2 separate regions of the Homo sapiens genome follow, and region 2 is linked to region 1. Evidence: fine-mapped expression QTL. Tissue or cell type: nasal epithelium. Region 1 holds a variant in brackets; the other region holds the start of a gene. All regions are shown on one strand. Distances are between the middles of the regions.

Region 1 (8,183 bases):
TGAATGTCAACAAAGAAACTCTCTGCAGTGATTCCAAGAGGGTACACCTCTAAGGGGGCATGTGTGCATCTCAGTAGGAAGAGGGAGAATTTTTTAACTCCCTGCAACCACCACCACATTCACCTGCAGAAATTCTAAATCACCTTTCAGGTAAAAATGGCTGCAGCAGCGACAGCCAACAAGGTTCAGAATCTATGTATTGAGCACCTTCTGTGTTCTGGGAATATTCAGACAGACCCAGGTAACGAACAACATTCCACTGTGTCATCCCTCTGGACTTGTCTGAGCACGACAGTTTATTCAATCACAAGACAGTCCAGTCACAAGATAGGAAGGTCTGAAGCAAGCCCAATTTCACCCTTAGGGTGTGATGGTCCTGAGGAAAGTGACCTGCTGGCCCAACCTAATCCCAGACACTCAGCCAGGCAGGACAGGCTGATGTCACAGTCACAGGCAATCCCCAGCTCTGGTGGAAGCAAACAGTGAACAGTGGGGGACCAGGCTGGTTAGACTCACAGGTGGGTGGAGTGCAGCATCAGGCAATATTATCATAGTGGCACTTGGAAGTCTGGTCAGGCAGGTTATCTATAGCCAGGAATCTGCAGTTTTGCTCCAGGATTTAGGAGAATTCTCTGGCCTGTGGCTGGGGAACTAGTAGATACAGGCAGTGAGGTGGGGGTATTAGGAGATTACCAGGAAAGGAACCCAGGACAGAGGCCAAAGGGACAGCAAATGGGGTTCAGGCCTTGGATCTTGGAGTTGGCCCTAGGCCACCTTGTCATGGATCAGAAGAGGTTGTAGGGGGGTGGGGGAAATGAATGACACAAAGTCATGGCAGAATATGGACTGGACAGAACTGTGAGCCTGCAGAGGAGGAGAGCATAGGCCTCGATGAGGAATCAGGAGCTGGGTGTAAGGGTGGGTTCCTGAGCAGCAAGAAGTCTGTTGTCTGCCTCCTTCAGGTGCACAACCACGGCCTCCACTAGCCCAGGTGGAGCCTTTGCATGAACAAAAAATGGTGCCTCCTTTGGGCAGACCAGTTGAGTACACACCCCAGAGGCACACAGGCACACCTTTGTTCAAACAGAAAGGCACCACTTCCTCCTGCAGGTGCAGCCCACACCAGGGCACATAACTTGAGAACAGAGCCTGCACTAGATCCCAGCGCCCACTTTCTTACTTGGTCAGCACCTGTGTGCCGTCCATAAAATGCACACCTGTCCGTGGATGCCCTGGGAACGGCTCAGGGAGAGGGCGTGTGAATCCACCTGTTCTCCCCGGCAGTGGGCAAGCCTAGACCTCCCAGCACGGAGCAGGGACCATGGGTGGGCTTAACTCTGTGGTGGAGGAAGTGGTATTGGAATAAACTTGTCTTTGTGCTGTTGAAAACCAGCCCCTACACCTCAGCGGCCACCCTGCAGTGTAGCCTGTAATTGATTCCTTATTCATACCACGTTGGAATTCCAAGAATCGGTGCTAATAACACCCTTTCCCCTTCTTGCAGCCCGAGCTGTAGCTGGAGAGAGAATGACAAGCTGGGTAGCCTCGGCCACAGGCCCCCAGCTAGAATCCTGACCTGCAGGTTATAATAATTATCAGTAACAGCTAACATTTATGGTGCACATTGCAACTTACCAAGTGCTTTCATGTGCATTCTCTCCCTTGCTCCCTGTCAGGCAGGGATTCCTGGCAGTCCCTTCACAAATGAGAACACAGACTAGCTCTTATGTGTCCAGATGGTTGGTATAGCAGCATGTATTGGAGTTCCCTGGAGCCTGACTACCAGTTTCCCATCCCAGTATGACCATTTCTTGGCTGTGTGACATAGAGCAAGCTGCTTTACCTTTCTGTACTTCAGTCTCTCTATGCATGAAATGGGGATATTAGTAGCTCCCTCGTGCATGAGGTGATGTGGCAGTTAAAACACTTAGAACAGTCAGTGCCTAGCATGAAACAAGTGATCCCAGCATAGAAGCTCTGCTTTCATAGCCTCATCTGGAAAACAAGATCCACCTAAGTGTGCAAAAACCTCACATCCTTTGGCAATCCATTTGTGGCACAAATAAAACTGGATCAGATTGCAGCATCACATTTGAGAAATGTAATTCCTGATAAGTTTCTTGAGCACGACTTAGCCCCCACGAGGCTGGGTAGTCAGAGAAGTTGCCACAAATGCTGTTGACTGTGTTGAGGAGAGCAGGTGGAATGGGCTCTGGCTGGACTGGGCAGTATGTACCCTCTGCACAGAGGTAACTGGCCAAAGGTGCCCATTTTTCAGCAGAAGCCCCAAACCCTGATTTTTAATGTGAAATATCCTGATTTCCAACTTTAGCAACTCAATTTCTTCTAAACACTGTGTGGGCCAGACCAGACGCAGGTGCATGCAGCCAGTTTGTGCCACCTCTCCCAGTGGCCCTCTCTGACTGCCACCCCTGGAGCTTTTAGTGCCTGCGGCCTCACACACTTCTCTCCAGGTTTGTCCTTATCTGTCCCATGATGGAGACCACCCCACTTGGTCCTCTCCTCGAGGTCCTTGGGTGGTAAAATGTCAGCCATGAACATGATGGGTGTTCTACCTGGAGTACTTCAGAGGGAAAATGCCACGGACAATCAAGTACTCAGTTACCATGGAGGATGAAAAAGAATGTGCTACATAAAATAAGATAAAATGAAACATGCTTTGGCATGTGAACATACAATGGGAAGTGTTTTGTCAGCTCCACACAAAGTCAAGATGCCATGTGCTCACTATAATTTTTTTTAATACTTATTTCAGAGGAACAATTTGACACCACATGAAAACCCCTTATTAAGGGGAACTTTAATGTGATCTCTGCCAAACTCTCGTGTTACAGCTAGAGAAGCTGAGAGAGTCCTGCATGAGATCTCAGAGCTGGAACCCAACACGGCGCTGCCATGTGCTCACTCAGCCCATTCTTCATTTTCATGTGCAATGCCTGCTTTCCAGGGTCTGAGATTTCCCTCCTTGAGGCAGATCCATGTATGTCATCCCAAGCATGTTCTTATGAGGCACTTACTGCGAGTGCAAGATAATAACACAGTAGCTTTCATTTGTAGGGTGCCATATATGGTCATCCAAGGACCCTCGTGTGTTTTTCTTTCCTGACAGGGGCATGAGACATGAACGCAAAAACCCACGCCCAGGGTCAGGAGAGCTGGGCTGTCGTCTGCACCACTAACAAGCTGTGTGACTTTGTGGGAGCTATTTGGCCTCTTCAGCCTACTCTCTTCTTTTCTCATTTTGGATAATACCAGCCATGCCTTAGTATTGGTATAATTATTATGAGCTTTCCCCAGCTACTGGTTGAAGACATGAGGCTCTGACTCCAGTCTAAGGATGCTTCTTGACTGACACCTTGAAAAATGACACAAGGACCCTGAATCCACCAAAGAGGAGAGTTGCACACAGAGAGACATACACAGGCCTGCACGCACATCCATGTCCTGCCAGGTGGGGTAGGCAGAAGGCTGCTGAGAAGGTGGCCCTCAGGAACCCACCCCTGGCAGCTACCACAGTTCATTGCCCCGTGTGCCAGACTTAAGGTCACCCAGGCCTTCCTGGAGCTGAGGGTCAGCAAACGCCTTGGCTGGGGCTGGCAGCCCCTCTACTCAGCTGGCTACGGGCATGGGATGCCTTCTCCTTGACTTCTGAATCTATTTGGCAATCCTGGTACAGGTTGAGACCAGACTTTTAGTAGTGAGTTAGAGAGACAATGATCTCAGCAAGACCGAGGCAACAGGATTAGAGCTGAAGCCGGTCAAGAACCGCACCTGTGCTCACATGTGTGCCAATAAAGTTAAACAAGCTAGTAGTGTTTATACTTGAGGGGATCAACTTTGGAATTAGAAAGGATTTTCCAGAAGGGGACAGCCAGGAACTGAGGAAGAAGAACTTTTGAGAGAATATATGGCAGGGACAGAGTAGCCTGCGCCCTAGGCTAACTGTACCATTGGATCCTAATTAACTTGGGAACATATCTTAGTCTTATGGACTATTGTTCCCTCCATTTA[C/T]AAGGAGGTATAATACTAGCTGACATTTAGTAAATGCTTGCAACATCCCAGGTGCTATATTAAGCACTTTGCATGTGTGTCTAATTTAATCCTCACAATGAATTAGGGTTCTATTATAATTCCCATTGCCCAGATGCAGAAACTGAGGTTTACAGAAGTTTAGTTATTTGCTACCATAAAGGAGTGATACATTTTGCAGGGGAAATCTTCACAGAAGTGGTGACGTTGAAGCTGTCTTAAAAACCAAGTAGCTATTTGTCAAGTAGGCAGCACCAAGAAGAGGAAAGTGGACAGGGGGGCACTTTAAGAAGAGGGATCAGCTTGTAGCAAAGCTCAAAAACAGGAAATGACCTGGAAAAGCCCACTGGGATTAGACTGTGAAAGGCTATATAGGGAGTTGGACAATCATGCATCATTGGAATCTTTTTGGTAGGAGAGTCACAGGATCAGATTGGTTGGGTGGACTAATGATTTTATAGTGTCTTTTGGAATAATGTTTTATCTTCTTCATTTATTATGGCTACAACTTACTCTTTTTTTTTTTTTTTTGAGATGGAGTCTCACTGTGTCATCCAGGCTGGAGTGCAGTAGTGTGACCTCAGGTCACTGCAACCTCTGCTTCCCAGGTTCAAGCGATTCTCCTGCCTCAGCCTCCTGAGAAGCTAGGACTACAGGCATGCGCCACCACACCCAGATAATTTTTGTATTTTTAGTAGAGACGGGGTTTTGCCATGTTGGCCAAACCTGACCTCAAGTGATCCTCCCGCCTAAGCCTCCCAAAGTGCTGGGATTAAAGCTGTGAGCCACCGCGCCCGGCCAATTTGATCTTAATTCTCCACCAGTTGCATCTTACTCCCTATTTTATTACCCTAGTGTAGTGTATATTTGTGCCACCTATTTAAATCCTCTTGGGAAGGAGACAAGAAATAAACACCTACTTACTTATAAATACATGAGGACGTACACCATATAGGTGGCATGCAGATCAGGGAAGAGAAGATGTCAAGAGAGACCAGGAAGAGGGCATTGGAGAAACAGACAGAGTAGTAAAGAGATGGGTCACAGAAGCCAAGAGGAGAGAGCATTAGAAAGAGGGAGCAGCTGGCTGGCAGCATGTCACATGTTGCCAAGAGGTTAAATTGGATGAAGACTAAAAAAAGGCCTTGGGATTGAGCGATGAGAAGGTCACCAGGGACCACAAGGACACTTCATTGCCCTATTGCATCAGACACAAATGAGAGATGAAGAAGTGGAAGCAGCAAGGACAGACATACAAGTTCAAGAAATTTGTAAGCAGGAAGAAAAAAGAACCGTGGATTAAGTGAGGGGAGGAGGCTTTTATTTTCTTGTTTTGTCTTGTGGTTTTTAGGGAGTGGATGCAAACACAGATGGGAAGGTAAGCTTCAACAGGACACTGCCAGGAAGAAGCATGAAGAAAGAGATAAACCCAGAGGCGGAATGAACCCTTTGGCAGTGGAGATATCTGACCATGGAGATGGTGAGAAAGCTCAAATCTCAGTTCTGGCTTTCCTTTGCATTTATAGCTGAAGGACTGACATGTGCATGGTGATTGGAGGAACCCAAGAAGTGAGTTTCTATCCTTTCCCCTACAGAAATACTGTGGGAGGCATTGCTCCAGAGGTAGACTCCTGGCACTCCTATTCCTGCCCCGCACCCTCACACACACTCAGTGCACGTCCCCAGGGACAGTCCCTTCTCTGGGCCTTATTTTTCCTGCCTGAGGCTCCTGGTGGGAGTGATGCTACCTTGGGGGAGTCTCAGGAGAGGAAGTGGAGCACACAGGCAGGAGGGAAAAAAGGAGGGAGGCAGGAAGAGCATAAACCAGGGCTCGGCTATGCCAGCTCAAGGCTCAGGAATTCCATATTCTAATTCCAGCTTCTCTTAAAGGGCTGGGTTCTCTCTGATTGATGGATAATTCCTGTTCTGCCTATTCTGCAATCATGCTTCCATTTCCATTCCAAAGATGAACCCAAAGAAACTTGTATCCAAAAAAAGGCTTAAAAAGTAGTGGTGACTCGGAAGGGCGAGGCCCGTGGCTGCTGGCAGCATATATGTCATGCCACCTATTCCTGCGTGCTTACATAATCGCAGTGCAACCGTGACTCACAGCCCGACAGCCAAGCTGAAACGTGATTAAGTCCTACAACCCTTCTGCCTGGAGCAGGGCAGGGCATGCTGTTTAACCCCTCTGCTGCCACAGCCTGGTGAGAAGGTAGTGCCCTTCGGTAGAAGAGCTCCTCCAGATGGATGAGTCCAACGCATTGGGAAAGGACCCCTGACCTGCATAAATACTTCTCTGAGACAGCAGCAAAAGGTCTTTCATTCCACAGATACAAATATTCCTGGGAGAGGTGACACATGGAATCCCTGCGTTTTAAAGCTGAGAAAACTTTAGACTTACCCAAGTTGAGTCATCCCCTTTAACAGACGAGGCTACCGAGGCCCAGTATCTAGTGAGAGATTAGTGACCACTCAAGGTCACAATGTGAGATAGCAGCAGAGTGGGGACTTGAACCTGGGTCTCCTGGCAGCAAGTCCAAAATGTGGTAGCCCTGACAACCCATTGAGAAGATTGCCCCTCTATATTCCAGGCTGCCAGCCAAGTGGTTCCGCACTTCACAGTAGCCTGCGTGCACCTGCTGTCTTCATACAGCCCTAGCAAGAATGACCCCAAAAGGGTTGTTCCTTAATCTCCAAGCTCCACTTAAAAGTCTCACAACTGGAGTTCTGGGGAGAACAGTATTTGGATTCAGGTCGAATCTCCAGCTCTGGAGTCTGTCCACATGGATGTGGTTGTGTCTGACACTTCCTAGCTCAGTGACTTTGAGCATCTATTTGAGTCTCAGTCACCTCATCTGTGAAATGGGGATAAAAACAGTAGTGCTGTTGTGAAATCATTGAAATAATTTGTCAGAGGTGCCTGTCACAGTGCCTGGCATGCAGTAAGTGCTCACAAGTGGTAGCTGCTACTCCAGTGTTAGAAGCACGGCTGCCTTCACGAACGACAGGGAGTTCCCGCTGGAAGCACTCAGAGAATGCTGCCTTCAGGCTGACCCCCAACACTCACAGGCTTCATGATAATCTCAGTGCAGAGCTTCTCTATAAAGACCTCAAAGCTCCACCAGCCAGCTAGACACTGTGTGACCTGAATCCTGTCCAGGCCCCTGCCTTGCTGTTGCTGACATCCAGATGAAAAGATCTGGATTGCCACATCCTACCTGGTGTTATCTCTGGCAGTGGCAGCAAAGGATTGTCTGATGGGGAATGGCTCCACAAAAGGTTAAAATGCCATCCCCTTCCCCAAATGTCTGTCCTGGTTTCACTTAATAACCAAATGATTCTGTCATCCAAGGGTTCATCTAGATAAATGATTGCAAACAAATCTTTTATTTTTATAATTGTCCTATTGAAACATGTTTAAAGCCTGTATTCTAGGGGAAGGGAAGCTATAAATATTAACAGTAGTGAGAGAAGCACTGGACTGGGGACAGCAGGAAGAGGGGAAGGGAGGGTGAGGGGATGGCTTGAAAATAGAGAAGAAAGTAAAAGCCTGCACACTGAATGGTTAGACCCCCTCACCCTTCCCCTGCTTATTTCCAAGAATGCTGGCAATCAGGTTCATATCCTCCAGCAAAGAGACTAGAGAATCTTAATCTGGAAAATTGAATCATACTGGAAGAAAGCCATACAGATCCTACAGATACTGACATTTGGAAGTGTCTCAGTGCAAAAATCCTGTCATTGCACAAATGTACTGTAGCAGTTGGCCTCAACCCTATCAGACTCAACACCTTCTTTTTTGTTGTTGTTTTTTAACAGCTTTATTGAGGTATAATTGATATTCAGTAAAGTGCTCATGATTAAGATGTGCAATTTGGAAATTTTTGACATATGCATGCACTCATGAAATGATCACCAAAATCAAGATTTAAAAACACAGCCATTCCCCAGAAGTTTCCTTGTGCCATTCATTGCCATTCTCTGTCCCAGTTTCCATTCCCAGGCAATCACTGATCTTTTGGTCACTATAGGGTTAGCTTACATTTTCGAGAATTTTATAAAAATTGAATTATATGACATTTGAGATGGAGTCTCCCACTGTCACCCAGGCTGCAGTGCAGTGGCATAAT
Region 2 (8,183 bases), 95 kb after region 1:
TGGGCATGGTGGCTCATGCCTGTAATCCTAGCACTTTGGGAGGCTGAGGCAGGAGGATCACTTGAAGACGAGTTCGAGACCAGCCACGTCAACATAGCAAGACCCTGTCTCTGCAAAATAATAATAATAGCAAGGCCTGGTGGCACACACCTGTAGTCTCAGCTACTTGGGAGACTGAAGCAGGAGGATCACTTGAGCCCAGGAGTTCAAGGCTGCAGGGAGCTACGATCACACCATTGCACTCTAGCCTGCCAAAAAAAAAAAGCCATTGTCCTTGAATTCAAATTGCTTAGCCTAGAGGGAAAATCAGGCATTTGGGATCAGTACTTCTAATCTTCTCTCTGAAATCTTCTTTCTAAAACCAACCTCAACACAATGGAACCCCTGCCCCCCGTCTGAGTTTCTTCCTCTAGCCCACTATATGCCTTTCCTAAGCTGCTTCTCAGCAGTCTAGTCTAGGCCTTAGTCCCTTCTCTGAACATGACTTATTGGTTGTCTTTTGATTTTTTTAATATTTTTTCAATTTTTTTCACAAAACATACAATAAGAGGTTCTTATTGTGCAACCTAATTGCACTTAAGTACATGCATTCATGTACCCAATGTACATATTAGTGAGTTAAATTTTTAACAAAGTCATACTTACATTATATTTATCTTTACTTCAGGAGCTAAATTCTCATTTTTTTCCCTATCATGTTGCATTTTATTCTATTCCATTTTTTTAAATGCTGGTTGCAGCCCACTAAATTGATTTTACTATTCATTAATGAGTTGAGATCCCCACTTTGAAAAAAAAAATCACTGTTCTATGTAGTCTCATTCATACTAATTTAGTTAATAATGATTTTCTAAATCTACATTTCTAGGCCATATCTTTCTCTTCAGCTTCTGACACACACATCCAAGTGCCTAGTGGACATTTCCACACAGTGTAACCACAGGCACCTTGATTTCAATATGTCCAAAACTGAACTATCGTCCCCACCCTCATAGCATCCTGGTAATTGTGTGGATGCTAAAACCAATGTTCCCCATAGCACTACTGTCTTTCCAGCTGTCTAAGCCAGAGACTTTGCATTTGTTTATTCAATAAGTATTCATTGAATGCCTACTATGTTCTAGGCCCTGTCATTTTGGATTCCTCTTAATCAAATCAATCATAAAGGCCTGTTAATTTTAACTCCTAAATACTTCCTCCCACATCTCCGCATCCCCTCTGCCAATACCCTAATTCAAACAACTATCTTCTCTTGCCTGGGCTCCTTCCTACTCTTGTCTTGTCCCTATGCCCTGCTGCCACCACCCCAATTTCAGCCCCCAATCCATTCCTTTTAAGGCAGGGAGGCAGGGAGAATGTTCTCTCCAGTACACAAATCAGATCATGTCACTCTTCTGCTTAAACACTTCAGTTTATCTCCCCATTCCAGCCCACCCCGCCTTTGCTATGAGATAAGATCCGAAATCTTTAATATAGTCCACAGATCGTATATGTTCTGGCCCTTTGCCTATCTCTCCTGCTTCATCTTTGACACTCCTCTTCCACATACTATACTCCATACTGGAGTATAGTTCAGCAAGACTGTTGGGGAATCATCAAGCCAATGTTGCCCATTAGAGGAGTGCTGTGTGAGGAGTGCTGTGTGAGAAGTGCAGTGTTTCCCAGGAATGGGTCTGCCTTAGTATCTCCACCACATTCAGTCAGTGGCTGGGAAGATGGCCTCCATGCAAATGTGGCAGATTTCTTTTTTCTTTCTTTTTTTTTTTTTGAGACAGAGTTTTTGCTCTTGTTGCCCAGGCTGGAATGCAGTGGTGCAATCTTGGCTCACCGCAACCTCTGCCTCCCGGGTTCAAGTGTTTCTCCTGCCTCAGCCTTCCGAGTAGCTGGGATTACAGGCATGCACCACCATGCCCGGCTAATTTTGGATTTTTAGTAGAGATGGGGTTTCTCCATGTTGGTCAGGCTGGTCTCGAACTCCTGACCTCAGGTGATCCACCCGCCTCGGCCTCCCAAAGTGCTGGGATTACAGGCGTGAACCACGGAGCCCAGTCGTGGCAGTAGATTTCTAAGGCAGCAGCTGATGCCCTTGGTCAGTTACACTCCTTGTAGTTTAAAGTCTGCAAGGTGCTTTCTCATGACCATTATAGTTTATCACCCTCAGAAAACAATTCTTATGTCATAGTCCCCATTTCTGGTACAGTTCTTTGCATATTTTTAATAAATGCTATAGAGGGTACGGAAAGAAATTAATAGTAGGTAGGAGCAATGGGTGGTATGGTTTGGAGTGAGGCTAGTGCTCAAGTTTGAATGCGTCCCCCAAAGTTCATTTGCTGGAAACTTAGTACCCAATGGAATAGTGTTCAGAGGTGGGGCCTAACAAGAGGTGATTAGGCCATAAGGGCTCTGCCCCCATAAATGAATTAATGTCATTATCTTGGAAATGAGTTAGTTATTGAGAGAGTGGGTTTGTTGTAAAAGTGAGTTCAGCTCCCTATTGCTGTCTTGCTCTTTTGTACCCCTTGCCCTTCTGCCTTCTGCCATGGGATGACACAGAAAAAATGCCCTCACTAGATGTGGGATTCTCAACCTTGGAATTCCTACCCTCCAGAATTTAAGAATACATTTCCTTTATTTACAAGTTAGTTGTTCTGTGGTATTCTGGTATAGCAACACAAAGGGGAGTAAGACAGGTAATGCTGGGGTTGAGCCTAGTAAGGTAGGTGGGGTCAGTTATAATGGACCCTCTAACCGAAAAGGAAACATAAGCCATTTTTAAGACAAAGAATGATATGATCAAAATATTTTTACAAGGACAATTCTAACATCAGTGGAAACGATAATCTGGAGATTAGAGACAGAAAGGCTAATTTGGACTATATGGGGGGAAAGAGCTGTTGAGAAGCTACCCTTTAAACTGAAACACAGGAACTCTATTGAATATCAGATTATAGTGTTTAAAAAAGGACATAGGTTAAATAGTTCTGTTCTTACCTGAGGAACAGTTGATAGGAGCAAAATGGTTTAGTGGGACTAGAATACAAGCAGGCAACTCTTTTCCTGTTGAAACATCTAACCTATCCTGTGCCACTCATTGAAATATTGCCCCACCCCACCTCCAACCTGCATCTAGACAATGAACTGAGAAAATAACAATAATAATAATAAAGAAAACAAGGAAAACTGCTTGTACATTTCTAGCTTGGAACTAGCATTATCTTTCCCTCTCCTGTGGACTAATTCAGAGAATTCCTTTTTAACCAGAGTTGAAGACCCAGACCAACCAACTGTTAAGGACCAGGACGCTCCTACCCCATCTGGAGTTCGTCAAAGGGACTATGGGAATCAACCTCAAGTAAGCGAGAATGAGTATGAAGAGAGCGACAGACCCTCTTGGAATACAGGAGTTTGAAAAGACTTAAAAGAACTTTGTGAAGGCAGCTATAACTTCCATGAGGGCAGTGACCATTGTCTGTACATCCACTGTACTCCAATCCTAGCACAATGCGTGGCACATAACGTGCCCACCACAGATGTTTAGTGAACAAAATAGCGACTGGCTGAAGGAAATGATGTGGAAGGGAAAAGTTAAAACCAAGAAAACGGTCGGTGGGGGAGCTACTGGCATGTTTCATGGGAAGGGGTAGAAAAAGAAAAATGTCAGGTTTAGCACAGCATTTCCAACAAATAGACAAAATTCTACCTAAGGGACAAAGAAGGACTGTTCTCAGGGTATCTAGGGACTTGGAGACCGTTTTCCTGAAGCGCCACCTGAAGCGCACCCTGAGGCAGCCAGGCCCCGCCTTGCCCGCAGTGAGCCTCCCGCCCAGCCGCGCCGGCCTGAGGGGGGCGCCTCCGAACGCGCGGGCGCACGCTGAGAGCCGGGAGGACCAGGTGAGGGGGCCTCCGTCTTCCGAAGACAGGTACGGTTCTCCACGCCTCGGGGAGGGAGGGCAGCCCGAGAGCAGCCGGCACCACTTCGCAGGCTGGGCTGGGCGTGGGCCGAGCTCGGGCCAGTCCTCAGGCAGGTGTTGGTTGCGCTGGCCGTGGCGGGTGCCGGCGCAAGACTGACGCCGAGAGAGGCTCCGAAATCGCTGTCGGAGTCATCCCTCCGCATACTGTTCTGGGCGGCCAGGCCTGCGCGGAGTCTGGGCCCGGAGCTTCCTCCGCGGGGCCCCCAGGCCCGAGGGCCGGGCTGCTGATCCGCCAGGCACGGTAGGCGCCATGCCGAGGGACCACGGAGGCTTCAGGGAGCCACGAGAATTTTTTTTCTTCTGGTTTTGCTTTGTTTTTGAGACGGAGTTTCACCCTTGTTGCCCAAGCTGGAGTGCAATGGCGTGATCTCGGCTCACTGCAACCTCCGCCTCCCGGGTTCAAGTGATTCTCCGCCTCAGCTTCTCGAGTAAGCTGGAATTACAGGCTCCCGCCACCACGCCTGGCTAATTTTTTTATATTTTTAGTAGAGACATGGTTTCCCTATGTTGGCCAGGCTGCTCTCGAACTCCTGACCTCGTGATCCGCCCGCCTCGGCCTCCTAAAGTGCTGCGATTACAGGCGTGAGCCACCGTGCCCGGCCACGAGAATGTTTTCATTTCGTTTAAAGTGAACCCATGAAGTCAAAGAAAGTGTTTTGATTTTTTTCTCACATCAGGAGGGGGAAATGAGATTTTTAGGGCCTACAAAATCCATTAACTTCTTTTAATCTTTTTTTAATGGAGGAAGGGGTCCACGAAGACGAAAGTGCCTTAGGGCCCACGAAATCTTTAATAGGGCCCTGCCAGAGGGAGAACCATTGAATCGTTTATCACGCGACAAAGTGAATGAGGGCTTGTAAAGGGGCCCTAACCTAGAATGCTCAGCACGGAACAGAACATCCGCAGAGGCAGACACAGCGAGAAGCCGATCTGTGAGAGGTGGATCTCCCGGGGTGCGGGCAGGGGAGGGCCTAGTGTGAGGATGGAGAGTTGGGCAGAAGGCACAAGCAGAACTTTAGGGCCAGGGTAAAGATATTGGATTCTGTTTCCAGTGGTGTAATTGGAAGTCCTTGGAGGGTTTTTAGTTTGGGCATAACTTGGTGGTTTGGAGTGGTTCAAGGCCCAGTTCCAGTTTTAACCAGTTTGCAGGGAGAATTCATTAAGCGAGTGTTCTTGGCAAAAGTGGAGAGTATAGGGTCAGAATAAGGTCAGAGCCTGTTTAGTACTATGCCCAGACACATCAGATGCATGAATTGATGATGTTTGAGGATGTAAGGAAGAGAGCTGCCTCTTACCTCATTTAAAATACAGTCTTCCAATTGCACATTAGTGTGGGATTGAAAAATGACTGCAAGCTGAAACCATTCAAAGAGATCTTAAACACCAATGGGAAAAATTACAGTTGTTCTATAACCTTGAAAAATTGTCAAAACACTAAAACTTTCTTACTAACTGTATAGGGAAATGTAAAACAGTAAAACTATTTCATACACTAACTTAAAACATTAGAAACATTGAGAGCTAAAGTGTTTTATTTGTTGAAAAAAAACTCTCATAGTAAAACTTATGAGAGAGCAAACATTTTTTGTGTGTCTTGGCAAACTGACATACTTCTTTCTAAGTTTGGGTTAGTTTCCTACATTTTATCCTTTGTACCTTCAATTTTGTAAAATATCTCTGAAAGTTTCTTTAATAATGAAGCTTTTTGCCAGTGGCCCTTTCTGTAGGATGTCTTCATCCTTTTCATCACAATGACTTTCCTCAAGTATGTTGATAAGTTTGCCTTCACTAAATTCCTCTGGCTGCTTCTCTAGAGTCTATCAGGTGGAGGCAGTGTCAACACTCTCATAGTCAGCTGTTTCTCCTTTAACTCCACTTATGTTAGATTCAGATTTCACTCCTGGCATTATCATTTTTTATTTCTTTGCTGCTCCTTTTATCGGCTAGTTTCCTCTTTCAGTTTTTGTTTTTATAAAACATCACATGGGCTTATCACTAGGAGACAAGGAGGCGACACAACTACACACTTCTGTCTGTGCTTTAACTGACTAATGGATCTGCAGTGACGGGTCACCAACAGACTTTGAAAGAAGTGATATAATTAATTACTGATCATGATGCACTGATCACTATATTATATCAGTACGCTATATCAGTATACTATACTATTGATACTGATAACTAGTAATTCGTGAACTAAAGAGCTAGATACTACTTTATGTAATTACAGTTAATATTCCATGGTAACTGAAATTTGAACTGTGTTGTTGGAAGACTAGTGTTAATTAACTAAACTGTAGTAACTGAAATCTATATACTTGAACCATGCAAAATGAGGACTGCCTCTACTTTATTTTTTTATTTTTATTTTTTTCAAGGGTGAGCTGGTGATGTTAAACAGCAACTTTTATTAAAGCAGCAGTGTACAGCAGCAGCAGAGGTACTGCAACTGTGGAGCAGGGCTACCCCATAGGCAGTGTGCCCAGAATAGCAGCTCAGAGGTAGTTCAGCAGTCATAGTTATACCCAGTTTTAATTACATGCAAATTAAGGGGGAGTTGATGCAGAAATTTCTAGGAAAAGCATGGTAACTTCCAGGTCATAGAGTCGTTGCTATAGAAAGGGATGGTAACTTCTGAGTGTTGCCATGGCAATGGTAAACTGACAGGGCACACTGGTGGGCATGTCTTATGGAAAGCTGCTTCCACCCTCGCCCTGTTTAAGCTAGTCCTCAATTTGGTCTGGTGTCCAAGCCCTTCCTGCAGAGTTGAGTCCCGCCTCCTACCTCACTATCAAAACTAAACTCATACGTGCCTTATGGCCCAGCAATACTGTGTCCAGAATTGGTGGGTTCTTGGTCTTGCTGACTTCAAGAATGAAGCCGCGGACCCTGGCGGTGTTACAGTTCTTAAAGATGGTGTGTCCGGAGTTTGTTCCTTCTGATGTTCGGATGTGTCTGGAGTTTCTTCCTTCTGGTGGATTCATGGTCTCGCTGGCTTCAGGAGTGAAGCTGCAGACCTTTGCAGTGAGTGTTACAGCTCTTAAGGCGGCGTGTGTGGAGTTTTTCATTCCTCCCGGTGGGTTTGTGGTCTCCCTGGCCTCAGGAGCGAAGCTGCAGACCTTCACGGTGAGTATTACAGCTCATAAAGGCAGTGCGGACCCAAAAAGTGAGCAGCGGCAAGATTTATTGCAAAGAGCGAAAGAACAAAGCTTCCACAGTGTGGAAGGGGACCTGAGCAGGTTGTCCTGCCTCTACTTTAAAATGGCGTTTTCAGATGTGAGAGATGGAGATGGATAATTAAATTTAATTATACATTAAATAAGGCCTCTGACTACCTGTTTGTGTGAATTTCTCTGTGTCAGCTTCAAGTTCAGCATTCCATGTAGAAATTGGCCCCATGTACTTAAAGTACAGTTTAAAAATATGTTATGTGCTTTCTTGGTAAATACATTAGTAATTGATTTGGGTTTCTGGTTCAAGATGACTTTCAACAGATTAGCATATTAATTCATTTATTTTTCTAGCTGTATCCAGCACGTAATTGGAACTCAATTTTTAAAAATGTTGAATGAACAAATGCTGACTTCCACTATCCAAAAAGGGAAGTTTGAAGAGAATAACTTCACTGATTCATTTGGGGAAATACATCTATCTATGTATTTTTTTTTTTTTTTTTGAGACGGGGTCTCGCGCTGTCACCCAGGCTGGAGTGCAATGGCGCGATCTTGGCTCACTGCAACCTCCGCCTCCTGGGTTCCAGCGATTCTCCTGCCTCAGTCTCCTGAGTAGCTGGGATTACAAGCGCGTGCTACCACGCCCGGCTAATTTTTGTATTTTTAGTAGAGATGGGGTTTTACCATGTTGGTCAGGCTGGTCTCAAACTCCTGACCTTGAGATCCACCCGCCTCAGCCTCTCAAAGTGCTCGGATTACAGGCGTGAGCCACTGCGCCCGGCCTATCTATGTATTCTTAGATCATTTTTAAAGATTCTAAATTCCAAAGTGTTTCTGAAAATTATCATAATTATCTTTGTATTGTCACAGGGGAAATCAAATAAGCTTTAATTTTCCCTACATTCTTTAGCTAAAAACAATTATATAGAATGATTTTAGTTCTCAGAGGTGGGGACATATTTTTTAGCTATCTTTTTTATCATATTTCTTTTGTTTTCTTTTGATTGTCCTAATGTTCTTCTTGAAATATTTTTATTAT

The links. PIP is the estimated chance that this variant, and not a neighbour inherited with it, causes the effect.
Region 2: it holds the start of M1AP, and the variant in region 1 is fine-mapped to the expression of M1AP in nasal epithelium (TOPMed, PIP 0.96).

Annotation. Positions count from the first base shown.
Region 1 is chr2:74,738,872-74,747,054 of GRCh38, reverse strand. The region is part of intron 2 of LOC102724497 (a long non-coding RNA gene); the gene reads right to left. Among named protein-coding and RNA genes, the nearest start is that of SEMA4F, 89 kb to the right of the region's middle. RefSeq lists an enhancer at 5,663-6,862. The variant C/T (reference allele first, on the strand shown) is at 4,033.
Region 2 is chr2:74,644,002-74,652,184 of GRCh38, reverse strand. M1AP (meiosis 1 associated protein) reads left to right here and starts at 3,855. Exons shown (of 11, transcript NM_001321739.2): 1 at 3,855-3,920.